3 separate regions of the Homo sapiens genome follow, and regions 2 and 3 are each reported to be linked to region 1. Evidence: microRNA targets listed by miRTarBase, many of them from high-throughput screens and not tested one by one. Region 1 holds a microRNA gene; each other region holds the end of a gene's coding sequence.

Region 1 (4,064 bases):
ACTCACAGAGCGGCTGAGCAGGCTCCGGGTTGGGGGTCGTGTGTGCTCCTGTCCCTCTGGCTGCTAGGGAGCCCAGCCTCCTCTCGAAGTGCAAGGAAGGGGTCCGACCCCACGCTGGGTTTTGGCTCCTGTCCCTGGGCCACACGTGGGCCTGCTGTTGTTTATTATTTTTATTTGTTGAGACGGGGTCTTACTCTCTTGCCCAGGCTGGAGTGCTGTCCTAGCTCACTGCAGCCTCCACCTCCCAGACTTAAGCAATCCTCCCACCTCAGCCTCCTGAGTACCTGGGACTACATGTGCACACAACCATGCTCCCATGCTCGGACTTTTTTTTTTTTTTGATGGAGTTTTGCTCTTGTTGTCCAGGTTGGAGTGCAGTGGTGCGATCTCAGCTGCTCACTGCAACCCCCACCTCCCAGGTTCAAGCGATTCTCCTGCCTCAGTCTCCTGAGTAGCTGGGATTACAGGCGCCCACCACCATGCCCAGCTAATTTTTGTATTTTTAGAAGAGACGGGGTTTCACCATGTTGATCAAGGCTGGTTTTGAACTCCTGACCTCAGGTGATCTGCCTGCCTCGGCTTCCCAAAGTGCTGGGATTACAGGCGTGGGCCGCTGCACCCAGCTGGCTAATTTTTTTTTTTTTTTTTTTTTTTTTGAGACAGAGTTTCGCTCTTGTTGCCCAGGCTGGATGAAGTGCCAAGGCCCCGTCTCAGCTCAGGCTTACTGCAACCTCTGCCTCCCGGGTTCAAGTGATTCCCATGCCTCAGCCTCCCAAGTAGCTGGGATTACAGGTGCCTGCCACCATGCCTGGCTAATTATTTGTATTTTTAGTAGAGACGATGTTTCACCATTTCGGTCAGGCTGGTCTTGAACTCCAGACCTCAAGTGATCCGGCCGCCTTGGCCTCCCAGAATGCTGGGATGACAGGTGTGAGCCACCGTGCCCAGCTGGCTAATTTTTAAAAGTTTTTGTAGAGGTGGAGTTTCACTGTGTTGCCCAGCCATATTGAATGGGCATAGCTCATTCAGTAAGCAAGGAAATAAACAATGGCGTGGGCCCAGCCCGCTGTAGTGCGTGAGCGGACCCAAAGGCTTCAGGAGATGGGCTAGACCGTTTGTATTCTTTTTAAATGTTCAGATAATTCAGACTTACAAAGGAGCAACAGAAACAGCACAGACGCCCCCTGCAGCTTCCTCCTCCTTCAGTTTACATTTTTCATGAACACGAACGTTATGAACACCAAGACGTTAGCCTTGGTGCTACGCTAATCACAAAAGTGCTAGATGGGCCGGGTGCGATGGCTCACGCCTGTAATCTCAGCACTTTGGGAGGCTGAGGAGGGCAGATCACGAGGTCAGGGCATTGAGACCATCCTGGCTAACACGATGAAACCATGTCTCTACTAAAAATACAAAAATTAGCTGGGTGTGGCAGCGGGTGCCTGTAGTCCCAGCTACTCAGGAGGCTGAGGCAGGAGAATGGCATGAACCCAGGAGATGGAGTTTGCAGTGAGCCGAGATCGCGCTACTGCACTCCAGCCTGGGTGACAGAGCGAGACTCCGTCTCTAAAAAATTTAAAAAATTTAAAGTGCCAGAGGTGGTTAGACACCCCCGTTTTCCACTCCTGTCCTCTCTGAGGTCCCCACACGGCATTTAGCCATTCAGCTCCTTCGCCGCCTCCAGTCTGAGGCTGTTCCTCTGTCTGGCTTTCATGACCTTGACCCTGACTTGTGCTCACGGGTCAGGTGTTTTGCAGAAGGCGTCTGAGTCCACGTTTAGTCTCGTGCGCTGTCACGATCAGACGATCAGACGGGGCTTCAGTGTCTCTGCTCAAAACCCCAGGGATGATGCTGTGTCACCCTCCCAGCGTCAGGCTGGGAGGCAGACGCTGTTGGGGCCTCTCACTGCCGGGCTGTTGACCTTGATCCTTTGGCTAAGGTGTTGGCTCGGGCTCCCCACTGCAGTTACCCTCCCCTCGGCGTTACTGAGCACTGGGGGCTTTCGGGCTCTGCGTCTGCACAGATACTTCGAGTCTCCAAGGAGACTTCTGCCTGTTCATTTCTGCTGCTGTCAGTGGCGGGGTGGGGGGGTGGATTTTGAATGCCTCTTGGGTGGTGTCTGGGATCGTTGCAGGAAGGTTCTAAGGGCTCAGGAGTGTGAGTGGCCCAGGCACCTGCCGTCAGCCTGTCTTCTGTGCTCCGCCTGTCGTGGGCAGCCGGAGAGGCGGCGCGGCCGTGGTGGGAGCCCAGGACCCCACTGAGCCCCCACGCCTGTCTCGCAGCCTGAGCGGTGCATCCCCGTTCCTGGGCGAGACCAAGCAGGAGACGCTCACCAACATCTCAGCCGTGAACTACGACTTCGACGAGGAGTACTTCAGCAACACCAGCGAGCTGGCCAAGGACTTCATTCGCCGGCTGCTCGTCAAAGATCCCAAGTACGAGGGGCCGGCAGGGGGCACGGGGTGGGACATGGGACACAGGCCCACTCCACCCACGGAGGCTCCAGAGGACTCTCCTCCCAGCGCCACCTCCCTGCGGCTGGGGATCAGACATTGCTTACCCCTTGGGCTGGAGAGAGTAAACTGATAAACTGGTGGCCCAAGCTGGCCATTGCCATGGTTTTTTTTTTTTTTTTTTTTTGAGACGGAGTCTTTTTTTTTGAGACGGAGTCTTGCTCTGTCTCCCAGGCTGGAGTGCAGTGCAGTGGCGTGATCTCGGCTCACTGCAGCCTCTGCCTCCCGGGTTCAGGCTATTCTCCTGCGTTAGCCTCCCAAGTAGCTGGGATTATAGACGCCCGCCACCACGCCTGGCTAATTTTTGTATTTTTAGTAGAGACAGGGCTTCACCATGTTGCCCAGGCTTGTCTTGAACTCCTGACCTCCTTGGTTTGTGATTTGCCTGCCTTGGTCTCCCAAAGTGCTGGGATTGCGGGCGTGAGACACCGTGTCTGGCTGCTTGCTGTGTTTTTAGCAAACTTTTAATTAGTTGCCGGTGTGTAAAGTAAGGATCCATGTAAAATTCCAGGTCACTTGTTTTCCTGTAAACACTTAGAATTCTGGCAGTGCTGAGCCCTCACTCGTAGGCCTCCCCGGGCCTCCATGGCCGCCCAGTCCCTCTCTCGGGCGCCTGGGTTTGCGACTCCAGCCTGAGGTCTCAGCTCTCTCCACCACCCCCCAGAAAACCCCACGCTCCCTGCAGTACCCTTGTTCAGCTTCTGTGGTTGGCTGAGCAGAGGCTGGGGGGCGACTTTAGGGCTTTTGGGGGTCCCGGGAGTCAGTTGTTCACGGGAGGACGGGACAGATGGTGCAGGTGTACCTAACCAGAGCGGGGGTCTTCCAGGCGGAGAATGACCATTGCCCAGAGCCTGGAACATTCCTGGATTAAGGTAAGTGGGGAGGTGGGGGAGCTCCCTGGGCTTCCCGCCTTGGCCTTCTCGCTGGGGTCCCGGGGGGCCTTCAGCATTTAAGGCTTGTGGATGTGACAACCCCCAGTGGCTGGGGAGGGTCCCCAGAGGAGTGAGCCTGTGTGGCGGGGGTTGGGTCCTGGGCGTGGGATGTCCAGCACCCGACAGACCTGGTGGCATCCTTGGCTGGTGTGTGTCCAACGGGGCTGACTCCTGGGGCCAGGGCCGCAGCGTTTTTCTCGAGAGAGCACTCTCGGCTTTGCGTCGGGCTGGGCAGTCTCCGTCACGAGGCGTTGACTCTGCTGCCGGATGAGCCCCTGAACCTCAGTTCACACTGGCAGGTGGGGGCTGGCGGGGCTGGGTGGCATCGCGGGGACCCCGCTCAGGCTTCCCTCCTTCCTAGGCGATCCGGCGGCGGAACGTGCGTGGTGAGGACAGCGGCCGCAAGCCCGAGCGGCGGCGCCTGAAGACCACGCGTCTGAAGGAGTACACCATCAAGTCGCACTCCAGCTTGCCGCCCAACAACAGCTACGCCGACTTCGAGCGCTTCTCCAAGGTGCTGGAGGAGGCGGCGGCCGCCGAGGAGGGCCTGCGCGAGCTGCAGCGCAGCCGGCGGCTCTGCCACGAGGACGTGGAGGCGCTGGCCGCCATCTACGAGGAG
Region 2 (4,064 bases), not on the chromosome of region 1:
TCTGAAGTATACCCCACCTTGGGCCCCCTCTGGAGCAGCCCCCCATCAGGTGCACAGACGCCCCTCAGAGCTCAGTGCCTCTGAGGCTGGGCCGAAAGGTGGAGAGGAGCTTCCTCCCGAGCTGCCCCTCCTTTCCCAGGCCCTGCCCGTGGACCGGAAGCGAAGCCAGGAGCCCAGCCGCCCGTCCCCTACGCCCCAGGGCCCACCTTTCGGGGGTAGCCGCACCCCCAGCACTTCGGACATGGCCGAGGAAGGCAGAGTGGCCAGCGGGGGCCCCCCAGGGCTGGAGACCTCGGAGTCTCTCAGTGACTCACTCTACGACTCGCTGTCCTCTTGTGGGAGTCAGGGCTGAGGGGCTGCGCCACGCCACGGCCCCGCTGGAGCTGGGGACCACAGACTGGACCGGCTCTCTTCATGCCCAGCCCCCGGAGACGGGGACCCCTCCCTGAAGGGACCAAGGAGGCAGGTGGATAAGAAGGTGAAAAGGGGGTCCCTGGCACACCCCACCACCCACTGCTTCGGCGGATGAGATGACCGTGCTCAGCTCAGGGAGAGACCCCGCCCTTGGTCCCTTCTCTCACCCAGAGTAAGGCTCTTCCTGGAAGGGACTGGGGGTTAAAGGCCACTGTGTCGCAGCCCTCCAGTCCCTACTTCAGGCTGAGCCATCTTGTGGTGCTGGGCTTCCTGCCCACCAGCCGTGCCATCTCTGCCCAACCCGGCTGCTCCTCTGCCCCGAAGCCCTCGCGAGGCCCTCCTGGAGGCCCCCGTGCTGGTGGAGTTTGGGGGCCAGGGGGACAAGTTGCCTTCTCTCTCTGCCCTGGTCCTCCCTGCTGTCTGGATGGTGCTGCCCTCCTCTGCCCCATGCCTTTGGGGTCTGTTCGTCCGTCTTTTTTGTTGTTGTTTTTATATATTGAAGCGCCTGGCCCAGCCCCCAGCCCCCAGCCCCGCACTGCGGTTAATTTATGTGTTGTTTAAAATGCGGCTGCTCTGCTTCCTGCCTCTGCTTCTGCCGTATCCCTAATAAAATGTGGAGGCCCCCTCCCTGCCCCTGAGTCGGCTTGTTGTGTGGGAGGACTCAGGCAGGCCAGGTCGGGGGACACTGCATGGGTGCCAGGTTGAGGGACCCCAGGCCCCCTTGTGACACAGCCCCCTCACCAGGGCAACTGGCTGGAGTCATCCCAGAAGGTAACTGAGGGTTGGGAGAGTAGGGCCTGCTTAGGCCCGGAAGGGTATCTGGGCTCGGAGAGATTCTCCTGGGCCAGGGCTTGGGCACGGCGCGAGGCTGGGTGGCCCCTTGGAGAGGGAGCTGGGGAAGATGGCTGTGGACATGCACTCAGGCCCCACGTGTCCCAGGCTGGGGGGGACATGCAGACTCTGAGTAGAGTTGCATCTCTTCTCCAGACCTTGGTTTTCCTCCTCTATAGAAGATTAGAAAGTTAATCCAGACGAGCTGGTCCCATCAGCCAGACTTTCTTCTCAGCATTCTCCTCTTCCTACCCCTTCCCCAATTCTCTTCCTACCCCTTCTTAGTTAATATCATCATTGAAGAAATTAACAAGACGGAGAGTGTCAAGTCAGATGTCTGGGTTTTTTTTTTTTTTTTTAAGTCAGTATCCCATTTTCTTACCTCTTGTCTTCTACTTCCAGATTCCTATCCCACTGTCCTATCTTTTCTGCTTTTATGGGCTTAAGCATAATATTACCAAGCTGTAAATCTGCTTCTTGCCAGGTGGGCTTCAAGAGGTCTACCTCCTTCCCACTTTTTATTTCTTGGTTTTTCAAGCCCTCTTCTCTGCTTGAACTTGGTAGATTACCTCATTTCCTAGTTAGAACAGAATTGTTTGCCTGCAGGATATTTCTCCTATTTCCTTCTGGGGAAGGAGTTTGGCATAGTAGGTTTGATGCAGGACTCCACCTCTTTCAAGCTGAGACCAGAGGGTCCATCCGCATTCTTACCACCAGGGTCTGATCCATCTGCCTAGGCTTTATTCTCTGGTGTTTGCAAATACAAGGCGTCACCTTGGTTTCCAGGGCAATGTGGGCTGACTGACCAAGGCAGGGCAGGTGGCATCAGTCACACCTGACGCCTGGAGGCAGCCATTGCCTACCAACTGTTCCATGGTGGGAAACTTCCTAAATCCCCCAGCATTCTGCTAAGAGACCCTGGATCCAGATGAGCCACCCCACAGCCTACATAATTGTGTGCCCTTCACACAGACCCAGTATTTTATCTAAAATGATTCTGTGGAGGAGGACATGCAGTTGAGTTTAAAGACACTCCTGGGGAATCAATTTCTTGCACTTCAAAGAAAGGTTAGGCTAAAAGACCATTTGATCCTTACTAAGGCAGAACACTTCATATCTCAGTTTGCAACATCTTCCTGCAGAATTCAGGTAAATTCACTGTTTTCTCCAAGAATAATAGGTGAATGTTTGCCTTTGCAATGTGCAAGACCCATTCTGCTGGATTTTCCAAACAAAGGAAGACAAAACTGCCAGGCCACCTCCCCCATCCCCCAAAATGGCATCAAGGCATCAGCAAAAGATTATGACAAGGCTTCAGGTTCAACTTCACTGGGCACTTTGCCTTTTGCAGGAAATGTCCCAAAAACATTAACTCAAGTTTTCTCTGGGTAGCCAGTGGGTTTTTTTTTCCTTCTTTACCCTTTTGTAGATTTCTACAAATAGTGTGCTTTGTTTTCTTTAAAAAAAAAATTTTTTTTTGTAGAGATGGGGTCTCACTATGTTGCCCAGGCTGGTCTCAAACTCCTGGCCTCTCCAAGTTCTGGGATTACAGGTGTGAGCCACTGCATCCAACCTGTTTTGTTTTCTTTATCAAAAAAAGTTTTAAGGCCGGGTGCAGTGGCTCACGCCTGTAATCCCAGCACTTTGGGAGGCTGAGGTGGGTGGATCACGAGGTCAGGAGATCTATACCATCCTGGTTAACACAGTGAAACCCTGTCTCTACTAAAAATACAAAAAACTAGCCAGGCGTGGTGGCACGCGCCTGTAGTCCCAGTTACTCCAGAGGCTGAGGCAGAAGAATTGCTTGAACCCAGGAGGCGGGCCTTGCAGTGAGCCAAGATCGCGCCACTGCACTCCAGCCTGGGCGACAGAGTGAGACTCCGTCTCAAAAAAAAAAAAGTTAAAAAAAATTTTTTCCCGAGACTATAGAAATGCTCACCTGTATTAACTTCAAATTCATGTGGCCTTAAGTAATTTATTTATATGCTTGAACTAACTCACACAGGATTACAGAATGAGGGTATATATCTAGAGTTTGCTGCAGAGAATAATTGTTTCTCGTTTAAAACTTTTTTTTTTATTTTTTTGAGACGGAGTCTCTCTCTGTCACCCAGGCAGGACTACAGGCTCCTGCCACCACACCCGGCTAATTTTTTGTATTTTTAGCAGAGGTGGAGTTTCACCATCTTAGCCAGAATGGTCTCAATCTCCTGACCTCGTGATCTGCCCACCTCGGCCTCCCAAAGTGCTGGGATTACAGGTGTGAACCACCGTGTCTGGCCCCTTAAAAGGTTTTTAATTGTTAAAGGAATAGAAATTATAGAAGTATATGTTCCCCAGGCACAATGGCTCATGCATGTAATCCCAGCACTTTAGGAGGCCGAGGCGGGTGGATCACCTGAGGTCAGGAGTTCGAAACCAGCCTGACCAACATGGAGAAACCCCATCTCTACTAAAAAATACAAAATTAGCCAGGCGTGATGGCACATGCCTGGAATCCCAGCTATTCGGGAGGCTGAAGCAGGAGAATCACTTGAACTTGGGAGGCGGAGGTTGCAGTGAGCCAAGATTGCACCATTGCCCTCCAGACTGGGCAACAAAAGCAAAACTCTGTCTCAAAAAAAAAAAAAAGAGTATATGTTCATGGTTTTTAAAAAAAGGAATTGAAATTGAATGTTATAACTAATTATCAGGGAAATGCAAATCAAAACTGCAATGAAATACCACCTCACTCTAGTTAGAATAGCTCTTATCAAAAAGACAAAAGAAAACAAGTGTTGGTGAGGATGTAGAGAAAATAGAACCCTTACACACTGTTG
Region 3 (4,064 bases), not on the chromosome of region 1:
TCAGCGAGAGCGTCCTGCGTACACAGATCCGCCACATGAAGTTCGGCGCCTTTGCGCTGTACAAGCCTCCGCCCGCCCCCCTGGTAGCCCCGTCCCCCGGCAAGGCTGAGGCCTCAGCCCCGGGCCCTGGGCTACTTCTGGCCGCCCCCGCCGCCCCCTACGACGCCCGCAGCTCTGGCTCCTCCGGCTGCCCCTCGCCTACACCACAGTCCTCTGACCCCGACGACACGCCCCCCAAGCTCCTCCCCGAGACCGTGAGCCCATCCGCCCCCAGCTGGCGCGAGCCGGAGGTGCTCGACCTGTCCCTCCCTCCCGAGTCGGCAGCCACCAGCAAGCGGGCACCGCCTGAGGTCACAGCTGCTGCCGGCCCGGCACCTCCCACGGCCCCTGAGCCCGCCGGTGCCTCCTCCGAGCCCGAGGCTGGGGACTGGCGCCCCGAGATGTCACCCTGCTCCAATGTGGTCGTCACCGATGTCACCAGCAACCTCCTGACGGTCACAATCAAGGAATTCTGCAACCCTGAGGATTTCGAGAAGGTGGCTGCTGGGGTAGCAGGCGCCGCTGGGGGCGGTGGCAGCATTGGGGCGAGCAAGTGAGGGGGCTCCACCAAGGAGGGGGGCTTGGGGGGGCCCTCCTGCCCGAAGTCATACTCTTGCTCCCACCCCACCCTTGCCCCCAGCCCTCTCTCCCTGTGCTTTGCTTGTCTCAAATGGCTCGGTGTTGACCCAGGGATGGGGCTGGGTAGTTGGGGTCCCAGAAAGCCGGGGGTAGGGGCCACCCTGGAATGGGGCAGGGGAAGGGCACACCCCCTGCCCATGCATGGTAGCCCACTGGGTGGTTTCTGGAAAGCCCTAGAAACTAGGGTTCCTCTGCCCCTTCCACATCCCACCTGTCTCTCTAGCTTGCTTCCTGCTCTCCTGTGCGGCGTCTGATTTCTCGGTGCTAACCTGGCAGCTGTGGGGCCCTTAGGAGCCCCCCACCGAGGGTGGACACAGTCCCTTTCCTTCCTGCAGATGCCTAGGCAGGAGGAGGGCTTCCTGCCTGTTTGGCAAAGTCCCAGGCAGAGGCCAAGGATGAGGCCTGACTCGGCTCCTCCCTCCACATCAGCCAGGGCATCAGAAGTTGGGCCAGGGCGGGGTCTTCCCTGCTCGATTTTGGACGAGGCCTAAGTAGACCCCCTATGCCCTGCCCCAGCCCTGGCTCTTTCCTAACCCCCTCAACGGTGGGAGGAACTGGCAGAGGGTGCGCCTGGCCACAGCCTCCCCGCATCTAAAGGCCCCTTCAGTTCTTGACCAAAGGTGCTACGAGAACCTGCCGTGGAAACTTCCAGTTGTGCGTCTGCCCCACTCGCTGTGTTTGTCCGTGGGTTCATACATGCATTGGGTGCTAGGCCCCAGGCTGCCGGGTGGCACCCTTTACAGTTCCTTTGAACAGGGGCATTGAAGGCCTGGACTGCCTCTCGCCTCAGTAGGCCTGGGGACCAGGCTTGGGTCTGGAGGTTTGCTGTGGAAGTCACCAGGCCTCCCCTCCTGGCCCAGGTGTGCTGGGGGCACCGTGCCCCCCACCCCCCTGCCCTCCTCAGGGTGGTCAGCCCAACCTGTCGGACCTTCACTTCACATCATGGTGGGGACCGAGATAGAGAGGGAGACCCCATTCCAAGCTCCCTCTTCCTCCGGGTGTTTGGGGAGGATGCTGAAGAATCCATTCCCGAGGGCCTCCCGGCTTGTCCCAGCCCCTCTTTTGCTTCTGACCACGGAGGCTTTCTCACAGCCCAGCCTGCCTGAAGCAAAGGAGGCTCCCGTGTCCTGGGCAGCTTCTGTTTCCCTCTGCTGCCTGGGAGCTGAGGCACCCGTGCCAGTGGCAGAGGCCACAGCCCCAGCCTTAGGCCAGGCCCTGGGAGGGCAGGCAGGCAAAGGGGAGACCAGAGGGTCTGTGTTCTCCAGGAGAATGAGGGTGTTGGTCCCAGAATTGGGACCGGGGCCCCGCTGGCCAGCCCTGGGCCACTTCCCGGGTCTCCATTGTGCGTGGGTGGCGTGTTCCAGGCGTGGCTGGAGCTGGCTTCCTGGCTGTGCTGCCATGGGCCCCTCCCTCAGAAGCACGTTGGCAGGAGGCCGATCAGAACCCTAGCGCCTTTGGTCCTAAGAATGGGAGGCTGCCTTCCTTCCCAATCTCCCTGCCAGGGCCCACAGCGTGGCCCTAGCCCTCCCCTCCCCGGGATGTAGAACGGGGACCCTCGCAGGGTTGGGGCGGGGGCTGATACTCCTCGGCCCCTCCCTACCCTGCCCTGTGTGTTGGCTTTGTGGCCGTCCAAGTGCCAATTGGCTTTTCGCCCAAATAAGGGCTGGTATTTCTCCTCTGTCCTTGGAGGTGATTTCCCCCTGACCCCCTCCCCCAGGTGAGTGACCACCTGGGTGCCAGTTACAGGTGTTTCCAGAGACCATAGAAATGTGTTTTCCTGAGAGTTCGTGTCATTCGTGACTTTTTTGTAAAGAAGTTGTGTTTTCAGAGGTGATTTTATGACAGGAAAGTGAAAGAATTAGTTTTGCAAAAAAACAAAAACAAAAAAAGAGGAAAAAAAAAAGAAATAGAAAAAAATATTGTGGGATTCCTATGGGGGGGTGGCGGGGGAGAAAGAGCTATTTAAGAAAAAATAGTAACGCAGTGATTGCACAGGTGAGGTGGCAATGTCAGGATGGGGCGGAGGCCTGGGCCCAGCTGGCAGGTCCCCTGGCATCGCAGGCACTGTGGAGAGGGCCTGGACCCAGATCTCCACACCCGTGCTTGCTCAAAGGGAAGGACAACAGCGGGCCCCCGGGAGCTAACCCAAGCTGCAGGTCCCGGCAAGCTGAGGTTTGGGAGGGTGGGGGTTGTCACTGGTGATTTTCTCCAGGGGGCTGGTGAGTGGGCAGTTTGGTTTCTTGCCCCCTTCTGTTCCTTTCCCAGTTGTTGGGCCATCTGGTCCCCACCACCGCCACCCTATGGGGGAGACCTCCCTCCCCACGGGTCACCCTAAAGCCCACAACCTCTCTGAGCCTCCCTGGCCTGAAAGGGGATGCAGGCTTCAGGAGGCAAGAAGCTGGGCCCCTGGGGGTGGCTGGGGAGAGGGAATGCATTTCCCTTGCCACAGGTGGTCTGCTTCTGCTGGCCTGAGCTCCAAGTGGAGCAGCCCGGGCCAGCCTTGGTGCATGAAGAGGCACCAGGCACACCGCCTTGAGGTGGGCAGTGCCCATGGGGGCCCGAGTGGATGGGACCGAGGGTGAGTGGAGCCTCCTTCCTCCCCTCTCTAGTACCCCCGCCTCCCACACACTTGCACGGATCGGCCTCCCTTGGGAGATCAGCCTCCATGGGCCCCTCGTCCACCCTTGCTGCTTTCCATTTGCCTAATTACCAAGCAGAAGTTGCAATCTGGTTTGCTTTATTTTTGTATGTGAAATAACCCCCAAAGCCCAATCTCCTCCTACGTTCAATATTGGTTGGGGCATCCGTCATCTCCCCTTAAGTGCGCCCCCTCCCCACCCAAGTATCATAGGAAACCGGTGAGGTCTGGTGTCTCTGGTTTGAGACGGTAAGTTGGGACCCATCCCTGTCTGGGTGCCCACTCTGACCTTTAGTTTGCCCTTCTGTGAAATGGGTGTATTGGGTAGCAAGCCCTCTTCAGAAAGCGCTGCTGGTGTCAGAGCAGCTGCCCAGTACCAGGTGGGGGGTCAAGGTTGCTGGTACTGGGGCCCCCAGCTGCCCACAACCCCTCTTTGTTCTCACCCTGCAAAGGGGTCAAGGTCAAAATGAGCCTCATCCTTCCTATGATCTGGGAAGAGGTGATGATCAAGTCCCCAACTTCAGTGTGAGGTGGACAGAGTTGGGGGGATGGCCCCTTTTTGAAGAGGTGAAAATGGTTTTGGAGAAGCGCAGCTGCTTCACTGGGGGAATGCGGCAGGGACTGGGGCCCAGGATGCTTTGGCCTATGGGGAAAAGCCCTTTAAAAGGCAGGGCCCAGGCCCTGGAGCCAGCACAAGACTGGCCTCGAGCCCCTGAGCCAGGAGGTCCTGGAGGAGAGCCAGGCCGGT

What was found. Region 1 holds the annotated microRNA hsa-miR-637 (ACUGGGGGCUUUCGGGCUCUGCGU, at 1,992-2,015, shown strand). A microRNA usually pairs through its seed, bases 2 to 8, with sites in the 3' UTR of a target mRNA and lowers its output. Matches are read on the target gene's strand: a 7mer-m8 pairs with bases 2 to 8, a 7mer-A1 pairs with bases 2 to 7 and ends in A, and an 8mer does both.
Region 2: the mRNA of NCKAP5L is a reported target of hsa-miR-637. Seed matches in the 3' UTR shown: 7mer-m8 at 929-935 and 7mer-m8 at 936-942.
Region 3: the mRNA of CBX6 is a reported target of hsa-miR-637. Seed matches in the 3' UTR shown: 7mer-m8 at 673-679, 7mer-m8 at 2,389-2,395 and 7mer-m8 at 3,726-3,732.

Annotation. Positions count from the first base shown.
Region 1 is chr19:3,959,380-3,963,443 of GRCh38, reverse strand. It overlaps MIR637 (microRNA 637), which reads left to right and starts at 1,932; the gene lies at 1,932-2,030. DAPK3 (death associated protein kinase 3) reads left to right here. Exons shown (of 9, transcript NM_001348.3): 7 at 2,283-2,435; 8 at 3,340-3,385; 9 at 3,807-4,064.
Region 2 is chr12:49,788,127-49,792,190 of GRCh38, reverse strand. NCKAP5L (NCK associated protein 5 like) reads left to right here. Exons shown (of 13, transcript NM_001037806.4): 13 at 140-1,039. The coding sequence ends at 352. Among named protein-coding and RNA genes, the nearest start is that of NCKAP5L, 38 kb to the left of the region's middle. RefSeq lists an enhancer at 602-1,444.
Region 3 is chr22:38,862,741-38,866,804 of GRCh38, reverse strand. It overlaps CBX6 (chromobox 6), which reads left to right. Exons shown (of 5, transcript NM_014292.5): 5 at 1-4,064. The coding sequence ends at 596. Among named protein-coding and RNA genes, the nearest start is that of CBX6, 7.4 kb to the left of the region's middle. RefSeq lists enhancers at 66-877, 996-1,873, 1,874-2,753.